Linked DNA regions of Homo sapiens. Each later gene encodes a partner of the first gene's protein in a complex. Each region holds a gene or a part of one and is shown on either strand. Other genes may lie near its edges.

Evidence for each region. The genes of interacting proteins can lie anywhere in the genome.
Region 2: COQ7 (region 1) and COQ4 share a complex: the UniProt entries of both Homo sapiens proteins name them as parts of the multi-subunit COQ enzyme complex.

The regions. Positions count from the first base shown.
Region 1 is NC_000016.10:19,063,403-19,070,631, reverse strand, and holds the start of COQ7 (NADPH-dependent 3-demethoxyubiquinone 3-hydroxylase, mitochondrial), read right to left. Parts: upstream 3,019-7,229; 5' UTR 2,968-3,018; coding exon 2,895-2,967; exon of another isoform or gene 2,802-2,894; intron 2,726-2,801; exon of another isoform or gene 2,624-2,725; intron 2,616-2,623; exon of another isoform or gene 2,402-2,615; intron 1,986-2,401; exon of another isoform or gene 1,785-1,985; coding exon of another isoform or gene 1,754-1,784; intron 1-1,753. UniProt on the Homo sapiens protein: Catalyzes the hydroxylation of the 5-methoxy-2-methyl-3-(all-trans-polyprenyl)benzoquinone at the C6 position and participates in the biosynthesis of ubiquinone.
Region 2 is NC_000009.12:128,317,899-128,325,838, reverse strand, and holds the start of COQ4 (ubiquinone biosynthesis protein COQ4 homolog, mitochondrial isoform 1 precursor), read right to left. Parts: upstream 3,001-7,940; 5' UTR 2,981-3,000; coding exon 2,911-2,980; intron 2,824-2,910; coding exon 2,692-2,823; intron 697-2,691; coding exon 600-696; intron 61-599; coding exon 1-60. Other genes in the region: TRUB2 (pseudouridylate synthase TRUB2, mitochondrial), read left to right, coding at 3,431-3,539, 4,109-4,240. UniProt on the Homo sapiens protein: Lyase that catalyzes the C1-decarboxylation of 4-hydroxy-3-methoxy-5-(all-trans-decaprenyl)benzoic acid into 2-methoxy-6-(all-trans-decaprenyl)phenol during ubiquinone biosynthesis.

The DNA.
Region 1 (7,229 bases):
CTCCAGAGTAGCTAGGACTACAGGCAGGTGCCACCATGCCCAGCTACATTTTTATATTTTTAGTAGAGACGGGGTTTCACCATGTTGCCCAGGCTGGTCTCGAACTCCTGAGCTCAAGCAATCCTCCCACCTTGGCTTCCCAAAGTGCTGGGATTACAGGCGTGAGCCACCATGCCCAGCCAGCATTGGTATCACTTTGTAATGTTTTAGGGCTCTTAGCCGTGACTACCATGTCTTTTATGCAAACTTCTTTTCACTTAGGCTAACTTCAACAGCCAGCGAATATGTGGAAAAAATTCATTTTAGATACATATGTGGTTCTTTCATGACAAAGGCTTGAGTGCTTTGGACACAAGGTAGTGAGGTGGGTTGGTGAAATTTGGGGTGGCTCTGAACTTGAAATCTTCTACCAGATGGGGTTGTAAATGTCACACTTTTAACAAAGAAGCGTGGACCTAAGTTCTGAAGCATAGTGACCCAGCTTTGGTCTACTCCTCGCCATGATCCTCTCCATCTCACTGAGCATATCTGACTAAAGAGACTGCATAGGCCGGGTGTGGTGGCTCATGCCTGTAATCCCAGCACTTTGGGAAGCTGAGGCAGGTGGACTGCTTGAGACCAGGAGTTCAAGACCAGCCTGGCCAAAATGGTGAAAACCCATCTCTACCAAAAATATAAAAATTAGCCAGGCATCGTGGCACGTGCCTGTAGTCCCAGCTACTCAGGAGGCTGAGGCAGAACAATCACTTGAACCCAGTAGGCAAAGGCTGCAGTGAGCTAAGATCATACCATTACACTCCAGCCTCGGTGACAGAGTGAGACTCTGTCTCAAAAAAAGAAAAAAAGAAGCATAAAACATGTGTCCCATCTCTAACACTAGCCTTGGGAAAATCAGGATCGACATTTCTTACATATAAAATTGGCTGGGTGCGGCGACTCACGCCTGTAATCCCAGCACTTTGGGAAGCCAAGGAGGGAGAATCACTTGAGGTCAGGAGTTCGAGACCAGCCTGGTCATCATGGCGAAACCCCGTCTCTACCAAAAATTCAAAAATTAGCCAGGCGTGGTGGTGCATGCATGCAGCCTCAGCTACTCGGGAGTCTGAGGCAGGAGAATCACTTGAACCCAGGAGGCGGAGGTTGCAGTGAGCTGAGATCGCGCCACTGCACTCCAGCCTGGGCGACAAAGCAAGACTCTGCCTCAAAAAAAAAAAAAAAAAAAGGCAATAATCAGGCTCTTTCCTTTTTAAGGGAAAACATACAATAATAAACTTTTCTTACTGAGTTATGAGGATAAAATAAGATATAAGAAGCAAAGTAACTTTATAAACAGAAATGAGTCTTATTCTGTTATGCTCACTGGCTGAACAGAGCAGCATTAAAATTCACATTCAACAACCCTCGGAGTTTTGCCTGCATTACCATATACTTTAAAGTAAAATTGAGGCTCGGTGCTAGCTCTCAAATGCATCACTTTATGTCCATATTTTCCCAAAGTGTGAAACATGCCAGTGTGGTACCTACAAAATATTAAGTGGCTTATGGATATGCAGCAAATAACCCCATGTAGTAAGGGGTACTCTTTCAAAATCTCTTGCAATCTCTTTCATTAAGGAAGATAACTCCATTTACAGCTGGTATAGCCTTAACACTTTCCCAACACTTGCTAATTTCCCCTTTGTAACAGAAAGACAGTATTTAATACAATTTCATAACTTTTTAATTTGTTTGTTTTTTTTTAATGATTACTCACCCATTTGTGGCAAGTGGCACTGGCTTCCCATTCACCATAAGGATTTTGTTTCAAGGAAATTAATTTAATTTTTAAATGGGACATAGCTATACAAAAAAACACATCTAGTAATCAAAAGTTCAAGCAGTACTGCCATTAGGCAAAAATCCCGAAAGTGGTACACGGTAATTTAACGTTGAGAAAACGACTTCATGAAATTTCTTTTTTTTTTTTTTTTTTGCGCGGGGGAGACAAAGTCTCGCTCTGACGCCCAGGTTGCAGTGCAGTGGTGCAATCTCGCCTCAAAGCAATCTCTGCCTCCCGGGTTCAAGCGATTCTCCTGTCTCAGCCTCCTGAGTAGCTGGGATTACAGGCACCTGCCATCACGCCTGGCAAATTTTTGTATTTTTAGTAGAGGCGGGGTTTCACCATGTTGGCCAGGCTGGTCTCAAACTCCTGACCTCAGGGGATCCTCCAGCCTCGGCCTCCCAAAGTGCTGAGATTATAGGCCGGAGCCACCGCGCCCGGGCTCATGACAATTTTCTAAGGCAGCACAGATGAAACAAGGAAAGCAGGAACCAGGGTCCAAAACCATGTCTCTCTACTCTAAATTCGATGCTCCTTCCACTACACTGATGGCTTTCACAGTTTACAGTGCATGCAAATCACCTAAAGGTCCTGTTCACAGATCACAGATACCGACCAAGTAGGTCGGGGTGGGGCCCGAGAATCTGTATTTCTAGCGAGCGCCCAGAAGTAGCGGAGGCTGCTGGTCGTCGGGCTACCCTTTGCCTGGCAAGGCCCTGGGCAAAGACTACAAAGAGAGAGACTCCCGGAGACGCTGAATTTTCAGTGTCGCCAACTGTCCTCGACTCGGAACGCTGGCCGCACCTGCCGTGACATCACTGCACAGGGGTGCAATTGCGTCACTCCCCAGGCGTCACTGCCGAAACAACCCCTGTCCTCCTGTCACTCTCGCCGCTAACTACAGACCCCGCCCCGCCCGCCAGCGCCCCGGAGGCCGAAGTCACGCAGTCGCGCTCCGTCGCAGGCCTGTGACGTTACGAACCTCTCCCCCGTGACCTCTTCGACCCAAACCTCAAGCGAAAATTCCCTAGCTCGCTAGACCGGCGCAGGACTGTGACTGCGCGCCTCCTTTTACCTGAGAGGGACCGCCGGGCCCCCGGGCGCAGCCGCCAAAGGCGGGGAGCCGCCGCCGCCCCGGCGCAACTCATTGCCGGAACTAAAAAAAGCAACCACTTCGTTGAACGGAACTGGCCAATAGTGCCCTTGGCTCGGACTGATGACGCACAGCAGACGTAAGGAAGGCTCAGCTCGCCCGCGCACCGGTGGGAACGCCCCCTAGCTCTGCGCTAGGGGTTAGATTGGTTAGATACGACAAATAAAAAGATTTTATTGGGTGGGGTCACTGTCAATCACTCGGAAGACCAAGGCCAAGGCGCCTTGGGTTGCCAGGGAGATGAAAATGCTAAATTGCTGTTTAGAAAGATCAGGACAAGGTTATGATTTCTCACCCAAGTTCCTGGGGAAAAGGATCATGAGGGAATTACTTATTAACAAGGCACGGTATTTCCTGCTTTACCTACGTGGAAGGAGATTTTTTTTTTTATTTGTATCCTACATCTACTTTAAAATAGTAAGCCTGGGCAACATAGCGAGACCCCGCCTCTACAAATAATTTTAAAAATTAGCCGGGTCTGGTGGAGCACACCTGTAGTCCCAGCTACTCGGGAGGCTGAGGTGGGGGGATAGCTTGAGCCCGGTAGCTCGAGGCTGCAGTCAGCCGTGATTCTGCCACTGCACTCTAGCCTGGGCCCTGTCTGAAAAATAAATAAATAAATAAAATTATATGTATATCTAAATTACATGCACCACATGGTTAATGGTGTTATATAGTGTTATCTCTATTGGTGGGCTGAAAGCCAACTTTAAACTTCTTCCCGGTCTTTTCTCTATTTTCAGAAACAGAGAACATGTTTTATCCTTGGTATCCACCTTAATGTACTGTGTGCATGTATGCATGTATATTTGTGCAAATTGGAATTTTTTGAGAAGGGAGGGGAAATTTAGCAACATACTTTAAAAAGATCATATAATACAGCAGTCTTACTTTTAGGAATCTACTCAACGAAATAATTTTTAAATGAGTAATGTACATGAGGGCAAAAATCAAAGATGCGTGTCTGCAAGGATATACAACGTTTAATATTGGCAACATCAGGGGGCTGGAACTGGGAGAAGGGAGCTTTCACTTTCTACTTTACACCCTTGGATTATTTATATACTTTATCCAAGTTTACCATAAAATATTTTAAGATGGAATACAATTGTAAAATTATTGAATTCAAGTTTTTAGTTTTTATATCACTCTAGTGTTCAAATTGACACACCAAAATAATTTAAAATTATGATGAACCCAAATACTACTTAGTGAGGATGTTGTAGCACTCTCATGTAAAACTACTGAGTGTCTGAATCTGGCGCTCAAAAGCCTTAAAATGTTCAAAACCTTTGCTGTAATACCACTTCTAGGTCTCTGTTTCCTTTTTGTTTTGTTTTTTGTTTTTGTTCTTTTTAAATGGAGTTTCACTCTGTCGCACAGGCTGGATTGCAGTGGGGAGACCTTGGCTCACTGGAACCTCTGCCTCCCGGGTTCAAGCGATTCTCCTGCCTCAGCCTCCCAAGTAGATGGGATTACAGGTACACACACCACCACGCCCAGCTGAGACTGGGTTTCGCTGTGTTGGCCAGGCTGGTCTCAAATTCCTGACCTCAAGTGATCCTCCCACCTTGTCCTCCCAAAGTGCTGGGATTATAGGCGTGAGCCGCCACGCCTGGCCTAGGTCTCTGTTTCTAAGGAGAAAAAATGTTGACAAAGATTTATAGATGTGCCCATTATTTATTACTGGGAAAATTTGGAAACAAAATGTTAAGCAACAATTGAATATCAAAACATCATGTCCGAGTGCAGTGGCTCACGCCTGTAATCCCAACACTTTGGGAGACTGAGGCGAGAGGATCACTTGAGCCCAGGAGTTCAAGACCAGCCTGGGCAACACAGTGAGATTCCATCTCTACAAAAAATTTTAAAAATTAGTCAGGCATGGTGGTGTGTGCCTCTGATCCCACCTACTTGTGAGGCTAAAAGGATCACTTGAGCCCAGGAGGTTGAGGCTGCACTGAGCCATGATCACACCACTGCACTCCAGAGTGGGTGATAGACCTAGACTCTGGCTCAAAAAAAAAAAAAAAAATCCAACTGTATGATGTTATGTAGCCCATTGAAATGTTTGTAAAGAGCTTTTAATAACAGGAGAAAACACTAGATTCTTCAGGAAAACACATATTAAGTGAAAAAGAAATTAGAATACCAAAGTTCTTTCCTTCTTTTTCCTTCTTTTTCCCTCCCTCTGTACTTTCTATCTTAAAAAGAATTTTGCCAGGATTAACAGTGCGTGCCCATAAGTGCTGCTTTTTAAGTTTTTTTCTCTGTTGCTTTTGATGTTCTCTGTATTTGCTATAAAAAACAAGTATTTTTATAATGGCAAAACAAAATTTAAAAAACAAAAATGCATACTATTCCCTAATTCCATCCCCCTACCCACCAAATTATCCATTAAAAAAACTAGTTCCAGCCAGGCACGGAGGCTCACCCCTGTAATCCCAGACTTTGGGAGGCCGAAGTGGAAGGATCACTTGAGGTCAGCAGTTCAAGACCAGCCTGACCAACAGGGCAAAACCCCATCTCTACTAAAAGTACAAAAATTAGCTGGGCATGGTGGCACACACCTGTAGTCCCAGCTACTTGGGAGGCTGAGGCAGGAGAATCACTTGAACCCAGGTTGCAGTGAGCCGAGATCGCACTACTGCACTCCAGCCTGGGCAATAGAGTGAGACTACATCTCAAAAAAAAAAAAAAAAAAAAACACAGCCAGGCACAGTGGCTCACGCCTGTAATCCCAGCACTTTGGGAGGCCGAGGCGGGCAGATCATGAGGTCAGGAGATCAAGACCATCCTGATGAAACCCTGTCTCTATTAAAAATACAAAAAATTAGCCGGGTGTGGTGGTGGGCGCCTGTAGTCCCAGCTACTCGGGAGGCTGAGGCAGGAGAATGGTGAACCCGGGAGGCAGAGCTTGCAGTGAGCCGAGATCGCACTACTGCACTCCAGCCTGGGCAATAGAGACTACATATTAAAAAAAAAAAAAAAAAAAAAACACGGCCGGGCACGGTGGCTCACGCCTGTAATCCCAGCACTTTGGGAGGCCGAGGCAGGCAGACCACCTGAGGTCGGGAGTTTGAGACCAGCCTGACCAACATGGAGAAACCCCGTCTCTACTAAAAATACAAAATTAGCTGGGTGTAGTGGCGCATACCTGTAATCCCAGCTACTCGGGAGCCCGAGGCAGGAAAATCGCTTGAACCTGGGAGGTGTAGGTTGCAGTGAGCCAGTATCACCCCACTGCACTCCAGCCTAGGCAACAAGAGCAAGACTTCGTCTCAAACACACACACACACACACACACACAGAGAGAGAGAGAGAAAATACATACACAGGAAAACCCAGTTTCCAAAATTTCAGGGAGACTGATTTGAGTAATAATAATATTCTGGTCTCCTGTTTAGCCAGCTCTGCATGTATCAAACGCTTTCTCTGTTGCAATTCCTCTGCTGCAATTCCTCTGTCTTGATGAATGGGCTGTATCCAGGCAGCGGGCAAAATGAACCAGTTGGGCAGTTACACACATACACCCTCCTTGGCTTCAACAGAGCCAAGGAGCTTTAAAAGCACTCATCTGAGGACTACATTAAACACTTCTTTCTTTTCTCTCATTTTAGGAAAAAGCAAAGAGGAACTTTACAAACTATTACAGTTTTCCATCATCACTTGACTGCTGACAAGAAGCCTCTTTGAATTCCAGTATACACGATCACATTTTAAAACCTTCAAGACGCCGTTTAATCAGGAGTTGTAAGGCACATTTGTTAGAGAGAGCTGCACTTTAAAAGTTATACAGACATCACCTGAAGTTATTAAAGTTATCAAAACATATTAAAAACCTTCAAGTAAGAGGTATGCATATTAGCAGCATTTAACTAAAATTAATATATTAATTAGCATATTTCAGTATCACTTTTATAATAGGAAAAAAAACGCAGTACGTTTTCGTTGTGTTCATCACACACACACACACACACACACACAAATAGAAAACTTGAATATCATCAAGTCTGGTCACAGTGAAAATGTTATATAAATATAAAGGCACTGGGCAGAAATGTTTACAATTACAACTTTTTTTTTCTTTTCACCTATCTTTTTTTTTGAGATAGGGTCTCCCTCTGTCACCTAGGCTGGAGTACAGTGGCACGGTCTCGCACACTGCAGCCTTCACCTCCCAGGTTCAAGTGATTCTCATGCCTCAGCCTCCCAAGTAGCTGGGATTACAGGCACACGCCACCATGCCTGGCTAAT
Region 2 (7,940 bases), on another chromosome or scaffold:
TCCGGCAGGCTCTGGAGCTTGCCCAGGTCGAGGGTGGATGTCGAAATCCGGGGACGCTCCCTGAAAGGCAAGACTTGGGCATTGGGAGGGTGTGGGCAAAGGTAGGTGAACGATCCAACTACAGCGAGCTGAGGGGCGGGAGAATGTACAGAGGAGCAATGTGGCCACCACAAGCCTTAATGGAGCACCTACAACTGGCCAGGCTAGTGTCAGGGACTTAGGATACTACCCCAAACCAAGGACATGGGCAGGGGTACAATCTCGGCAGGAAGACAGTCCTCGAATGTGACCAGAGTACTTGCAAAAGGTACTGCAAGGGAGGGGTAAAGCCAGCACATGTTATGGGAACTTAATGAAGGCACAGAGCCCTGTGGTTGAAACTGGGCCAAGGCTATCACACTGCACAACTCGGAAGTCATCAGTGTATACACATGTATGTGAATGACACCCCTGGAATTGGGCAGTGCCCAGCCTGTGCAACCATATGTAGCCAGGGTATCAAAAGCTCCCTAGCGGAACAGAACAAACACAATGTGATTCTAGAGAGGTCAGAATACCTAGAGAATGCCCCCAGACCCCCAGGCAGAGCTGGGACCTACTGCAGGATCTGGGCACCCTCTGGATCCCTCCTCATCTGGTCCCTGAGGACCTTCAGGGTGCGGTGTCCTGTGGTCTCCCCTAGAACTGCGACCATGTCTGAAAGGACAGAAACGGGCACAAATGGGGGATGTCATCTTAGGTAAGTTAGCTGACCTGGTCTGAGCCTTTGTTTCCTACAGGATAAATTAGGGATGATGTCTAGCTCTTTGTTATAAGGATTCAGGCTAAACACTTAGCAAATTACCCAGCACACAACAAGGGATCAGTATACATATCTATAGTTCTTATTCTTAATCTACTGGGGCGGGACAGCTCTAGTTAGCACAACGTTGTAAAGATTTTATAAATCACTTTTCACAATACAATATCATGTCTCCATTGATTGGTAGAGGCTTAGGCATCAGAGATGCTGGGCTACAGTCCAGGTGTGTTCACTATCTAGGTGACCTAGTACAAATTGCTTCACATTTCTGTTTTGTTTTGTTTTTTTGAGACAGGGTCTTGCTCTGTTGCCCAGGCTGGAGTGAAGTGGTGTGATCATAGCTCACTGCTAGGACTACAGGCATGCAGCTAGTTTTTTAAATTTTCTGTAGAGATGAGGTCTTGCTATGTTGCCCAGGCTGGTCTTGAACTTTGGCCCCAAGTGATCCTCCCACCTTGGATTCCCAAATTGCTGGGATTACAGGTGTGAGCCACCATGCCTGGCCTGCTTCACATTTTTCAGCCTCAGTGTCTTAATTTGTGAAGTGCAGACAACACCTTTCTTAGCTGGTTAATGTGAGAAACCATGAAAATCATATATATATAACACTTAGTGGCCAAGTGTAGCGGCTGACACCTGTAATCTCAACACTGGGGGGCTGAGGCAGGAGGATCACTTGAGGCCAAGAGTTCCAGAGCAGCCTGGGCAACGTGGCAAGACGCCGTCTCTACAAAAAAATTAAAAAATTCGCTGGTCTTGGCCGGGCGTGGTGGCTCATGCCTGTAATCCCAACACTTTGGGAGGCCGAGGTGGGAGGATCACCTGAAGTCAGGAGTTTGAGACCAGCCTGGGCAACATAGCAAAATCCCGTCTCTACTAAAAATACAACAATTAGCCAGGCCGCACAGGCCTGTAATCCCAGCTACTCAGGAGGCTGAGGCACGAGAATCGCTTGAACCTGGGAGGTGGAAGTTGCATAGAGCTGAGATTGCGCCACTGCACTCCAGCGTGGGCCACAGAGCAATACTGTGTCTCAAAACAAAACAAACAAAAAACCACTGGGGACATGGAGATATAGTGTATTTTTTGTTTAAGACAGGGTCTCGCTCTGTCGCCCAGGCTGGAGTGCAATGGCGCAATCACAACTTACTGCAGTCTCGAACTCCCCGGCTCAAATGGTCCTTCCACCTCAGCCTGGGAATACAGCCGCATGCAACCAGCCCCAATTAATTCTTGTATTTTTTTTTGTAGAGATGGGGATTCACCGTGTTGCCCAGGCTGGTTTCAAACTCCTCAGCTCAAGCCATCTGCCCGCTTCGGCCCCCCGATAGGGATTATAGGCGTGAGCCACTATAATAGCGCCTAGCCTGTTTTTGTTAGTAGGAATAACAGTACTTCCCAGAACTCAAAAATCTAGGAGGCATAAGAAAAACACTGTAGAACCCTAGAATGTTCTAGTCACACATCCAGCAAACATTTATTGAGCATTTACTATGTGCCAGGCACTATCCAGAAGGCTGCAGATGCAGTGGAACGAGGCAGACATGGTCCTCGACCTCGGAGTTGACTTTCTAGTAGGATATTATAAACTGATCGGTACTTATGAATCATCTATTTAGTCTAGATGTTCTCAATATGGCTGCATGACAGATTCTCCCAAGTAGTTTAAAGACAGACTTTCGGTTTCACGCCCATTTCTCCCTCCACTGCAGATTCAGATTCAGATTCAGTGCGTTTAGGTGGGATCCAGGAATCTGCATTTTCATAAACGTTCCGAGTGGTTACGAGCTGCAACCAGGTTTGGGTACCCCGACCTAGGCTATGTTCCAGTTACCCACAGGAAACGGCTCCAAGCCGCCCCCACGGGGGCGAGGCGCGGGCGGCCTTACCGTGGCGGTAGGGGTTATAGAGCGCCATCGCCGCGGAGCCGGCGGCCAACAGCCCTTTCTGCAGCGGGGAGGTGGGGAGGTGGTGCGAGTATAGCGGGCCGGCGCCGTCGCTCCTAGCCCGGAGGGGCATTTCTGCGGGGCAAGAAAAAGGCCGAGGTCAGAGGAGCCGGGCGCCCTCAGGCTCCTTCCCGCCTGCGCCCAGAACCCGGCGCCACTTGCCTGCCGCAGGCCGCTGTAGGCCCGGGAGCCCGCAGAGCCGACGGAGGACAGGGCGCAGCAGAGTCGCCATGGCAGCGGGCGTCCGCGGAGGATGGGCGGGTACGAAGAACGCCGCGATTCTGTCAGGCGACGGAGCGTCGGAGGGGTCAAAACTCACTGAAAAACCGATTCTGACGGCGTAGCCTACGGCCTTTCGAGGGGAAACATCGCTTCACGGGCAGAAGGCATGTAGGCCAAGTAGGCGAAGGAAACGCACGCGAACTGTCTACCGTCTACGTCCACCGATCCAAGACTCTCGCCATGTCACCTCGCCCCAGAAAGTGTCTGCAAAGGACACGCAACCACGCTCACTCAGCGCCGGGCCCTATTTCCTTCTCCACAGCCGGTTTTCCCCGAAGACTATAAAATGCGAACCTCTTCCGGCTGTGGAACATGGCGGCGCCCGTGGAAAGGACCACATTTGGGGGCGGGGCCTGGCGGTACTTCCGTCCAGGTCCAGCGGGTGCTGTGATCTTCAAGTATGGGGTCTGCTGGCTTGTCGCGGCTGCATGGGCTTTTCGCGGTCTATAAGCCCCCGGGGCTAAAATGGAAGCACCTGCGGGATACAGTGGAGCTACAACTTCTGAAGGGTGAGTGCCTCGAACCAGACCCACGTTCCCGCTCTCGTTCTCTTGGAAGTCCATCTCCGCTTCTGGTCCTTACCCCAAAACAAAATCACGTGACCTATTCACCTGGGCAGAGCGCTTTCCCAAACGCCTGTTCTCTGTGCTTTCTTACTCCTCACTTTCCTCTGTTTTCCGAGGGGGAAACTGACTCAGTATTGTTCCTTGTCACACGGTTACTACGTTGTAGAGTCTGTTTGAATCCGCCTGTTTCTTAACTACTGCTATACTGCCCTCTGCACCATGGGCTTCTGCTTTGTCTTCTACATCATACTTCCCTGTTGTCTAATCCCCCAAGTGTTTGGACAGAACAAGATATTCCTGGTCAGCATCGTGGTGCACGCCTGTAATCCCAGCTACTCTGGAGGCTGAGGCAGGAGGATCGCTTGAGCCCAAGAGTTTGACGTTACAGTGAGCTATGATGGCGCCATTGCACTTCAGCCTGGGCTACAGAACGAGGCCCTGTCTCTTAAAAAATATTTTATATGTACATATATTTGTATGTATGTGTGTATATATTATCTCTGTGTGTTCAGGTCTCAATGCCAGGAAGCCTCCCGCTCCTAAACAGCGTGTTCGCTTCTTGCTGGGCCCCATGGAAGGCAGCGAAGAGAAGGAGCTGACCCTCACAGCCACCAGCGTACCCTCTTTCATCAACCATCCACTGGGTAAGGCAGATTTAAGCAGGATCCTGTGTGTCACTTCCCAGGAAATCCCTGAGCCGAGTCAGTGTCCCAGTGCTCAGATTCCTGTGCCAGGCCCTTGAAGGTCCACAGAGGAGTGAGGTATTAGACCAGGAATTGGCAGATTTCCTTGGAAAGGGCCAGATACTGAATGTTTTAGTTTTCAGGCCATGTGATTTCCGTTGGAACTGCTCAACTCTGCCAATGTAGTGCCAAACAGCTATAGACAGTATCTAAAGGAATGAGCCTAGCTGTATTCCAATAGAACTTTATGAATATTCATATTTGAACTTCAGGTAATTTTCACGTGTCACTAAGTACAGTTGCCTCTGAGTCCATGAGTTCCACATCCCATGATCCAGCTTCAGATTGGCAGTATTTGGGAAGAAAAACACAAAGTTCCAAAAAGCAAAACTTGAATTTGCTGTGCACCTAGTACTGTGTTGAATCCACTCAAGGTGATGCATAGGCATTATATTAGGCATTATAAGTAATCTAGCTAGGCGTGGTGGCTCACGCCTGTAATCCCAGCATTTTGAGAGGCCGAGGAGGGTGGATCATGAGGTCAAGAGATCGAGACCATCCTGGCCAACATGGTGAAACCCCGTCTCTACTAAAAATACAAAAATTAGCCGGGAGTGGTGGCAGGCGCCTGTAGTCCCAGTTGCTCAGGAGGCTGAGGCAGGAGAATCACTTGAACCCGGGAGGCGGAGGTTGCAGTGAGCCGAAATTGTGCCACTGCACGCCAGCCTGGCAACAGAGCGAGACTCCGTCTCAAAAAAAAAAAGGTAATCTAGAGATGATTTAAAATATATGGGAAGGCCAGGCCTGGTGGCTCATGCTTGTAATCCCAGCACTTTGGGAAGCTGAGGCGGTGGATTACTTGAGCCTAGGAGTTTAACATCAGCCTGGGCAACATGGGGAAACCCTACTTCTACAAGAGAATACAAAAGGCCGGGTGCAGTGGCTCACACCTGTAATCCCAGCACTTTGGGAGGCTGAGGCGAGCAGATCACCTGAGGTCGGGAGTTCGAGACCAGCCTGGCCAACATGGAGAAACCCCGTCTCTACTAAAAATACAAAATTAGACAGGTGTGGTGGCACATGCCTATAATCCCAGGTTCTCAGGAGGCTGAGGCAGGAGAATTGCTTGAACCCGGGAGTCGGAGGTTGCGGTGAGCTTAGGTTGTGCCATTGCACTCTAGCCTGGACAATAAGAGTGAAACTGTCTCAAAAAAAAAAAAAAATTAGCCAGGTGGGGTGGCATATGCCTGTAGTTCCAGCTACTCGGGAGGTTGAGGTGGGAGAATCACTTGAGCCCAGGAGTTCAGAGGCTGCAGTGAGCCGAGACTGTGCCAGTGCACTCCAGCCTGGGTGACAGAGTGAGACTCTGTCTCCAAAAAAAATAAAGAGGCTGAGGTGGGCGGATCACGAGGTCAGGAAATCGAGACCATCCTGGCTAATACGGTGATACCCTGTCTCTACTAAAAATACAAAGAAATTAGCCGGGCGTGGTGGTGGGCGCCTGTAGTCCCAGCTACTCCAGAGGCTGAGGCAGGAGAATGGCGTGAACCCAGGAGGCGGAGCTTGCAGTGAGCGGAGATCGTGCCACTGCACTCCAGCCTGGGCGACACAGCGAGACTCAGTCTCAAAAAAAAAAAAAGTGGCCAGGTGTGGTGGCTCACGCCTGTAATCGCTGCACTTTGGGAGGCCAAGGTGGGCGGATCACTTGAGGTCAGGAGTTCAAGACATGGCAAAGCCCCGTCTCTAGTAAAAATTAGCTGGGCATGATAGCACGTACCTGTAATCCCAGCTACTCAGGAGGCTGAGTTACGAGGAGTCGCACGAACCTGGGAGGCAGAGGTTGTGGTGAGCCATGATCGTGCCACTGCACTCCAGCCTGGGTGAAAGAGTGAGACTCTGCCTCAAAAAAAAAAAAAAAAGGTATATGGGACGACATGCCTAGGTTATATGCAAATACTATGCCATTTTATATCAGGGACTTGAACATCTACAAATTTTGGTATCTGCAAGGGATCCTGGACCCAATCCCCTTGGATACCAAGGGACAACTGTAGTATTCTATTTATTTAGAGACAGGGTCTCACTCTGTCACCCAGGCTGGAGGGCAGTGGTGAGATCTCGGCTCACTGAAACCTCTGCCTCCTGAGTTCAAGCAGTCTTCTCACCTAAGCCTCCCGAGTAGCTGGGACTACAGGCACAGGCCACTATGCCTGGCTAATTTTTTTTTTTTTTTTGAGACGGAGTCATGCTCTGTTGCCCAGGCTGGAGTGCAGTGGCACGATCTCGGCTCACTGCAAGCTTCTCCTCCTGGGTTCACGCCATTCTCCTGCCTCAGCCTCCCGAGTAGCTGGGACTACAGGCGCCCGCCACCACGCCCAGCTAATTTTTTGTATTTTTAGTAGAGACGGGGTTTCACCATGTTAGGCAGGATAGTCTCGATCTCCTGACCTCGTGATCCACCCGCCTCGGCCTCCCAAAGTGCTGGGATTACAGGTGTGAGCCACCACGCCCGGCCATGCCTGGCTAATTTTTGTATTTTTTGTAGAGATGGGGTTTTGTCACGTTGCCCATGCTAGTATTGAACTCCTGGGCTCAAGTGATCTGCCTGCCTCGGCGTCTCAAAGTGCTGGGATTATAAGCGTGAGCCCTTGCAACTGGTCTCTTGATTTATTTTGAACCACTGAAAAATGCAAAAACCATTCTTAACTCATAGGCCACAAAAAACAAGCCAGATGCGGTGGCTCATTCATGTAATCCCAGCACTTTGGGAGGCCGAGGCAGGCGGATCACTTGAGGTCAAGAGTTCAAGACCAGCCTGGCCAACATGATGAAACTCCGTCTCTACTAAAAATACAAAAAATTAGCTAGGTATGGAGGCAGGTGCCTGTAATCCTAGCTACTCAGGAGGCTGAGGCATGAGAATCGCTTGAATCTGGGAGGTGGAGGTTGCAGTGAGTTGAGATGGCGCCACTGCACTCCAGCCTGGGTGACAAAGTGAGACTCCATCTCAAAACAAAACAAAACAAAACAAGCAAACACACACACACAAAAAAAAAACAGTCTTCAGTCTTCAGGTTTGACTTGTGGACTGTAGTTTGCTGACCCTTTTTCTATTCTGGGACTCCAGGTGAGAAATGAGACCCTAGGTAGAAGTCCTAAGGTAGGGGTTTTGGGTTTCTGGGAAAGAATAAGTTTATTTATTTATTTATTTGACAGAGTCTTGCTCTGTTGCCCAGGCTGGAGTCTGGAGTGCAGTGGTGTGATCTCAGCTCACTGCAACCTCCATCTCCCAGGTTCAAGCTATTCTCTTGCCTCAGCCTCCCAAGTAGCTGGGATTACAGGTGTGTGCCACCACACCCAGCTAATTTTTGTATTTTTAGTAGAGATGGGGTTTCACCATGTTGGCCAGGCTGGTCTCGAACTCCTGACCTCAGGTGATCCGCCCACCTTGGCCTCCCAAAGTGCTGGGATTACAGGTGTGAGCCACTGCGCCCAGCCGAAAGAGTGATTTTTTTACTGAATAAAGTTGCCCAACAATGGAACTGGTTCTGGTAATGTGTCCCCATCACTAGATGTGATTAAGGCATGTGTCAGGGAATCTAGAGGTTTGACCAGAAACCTCAAAAACCCGTTGGACTTGTGATATTCAATGACTCTATTA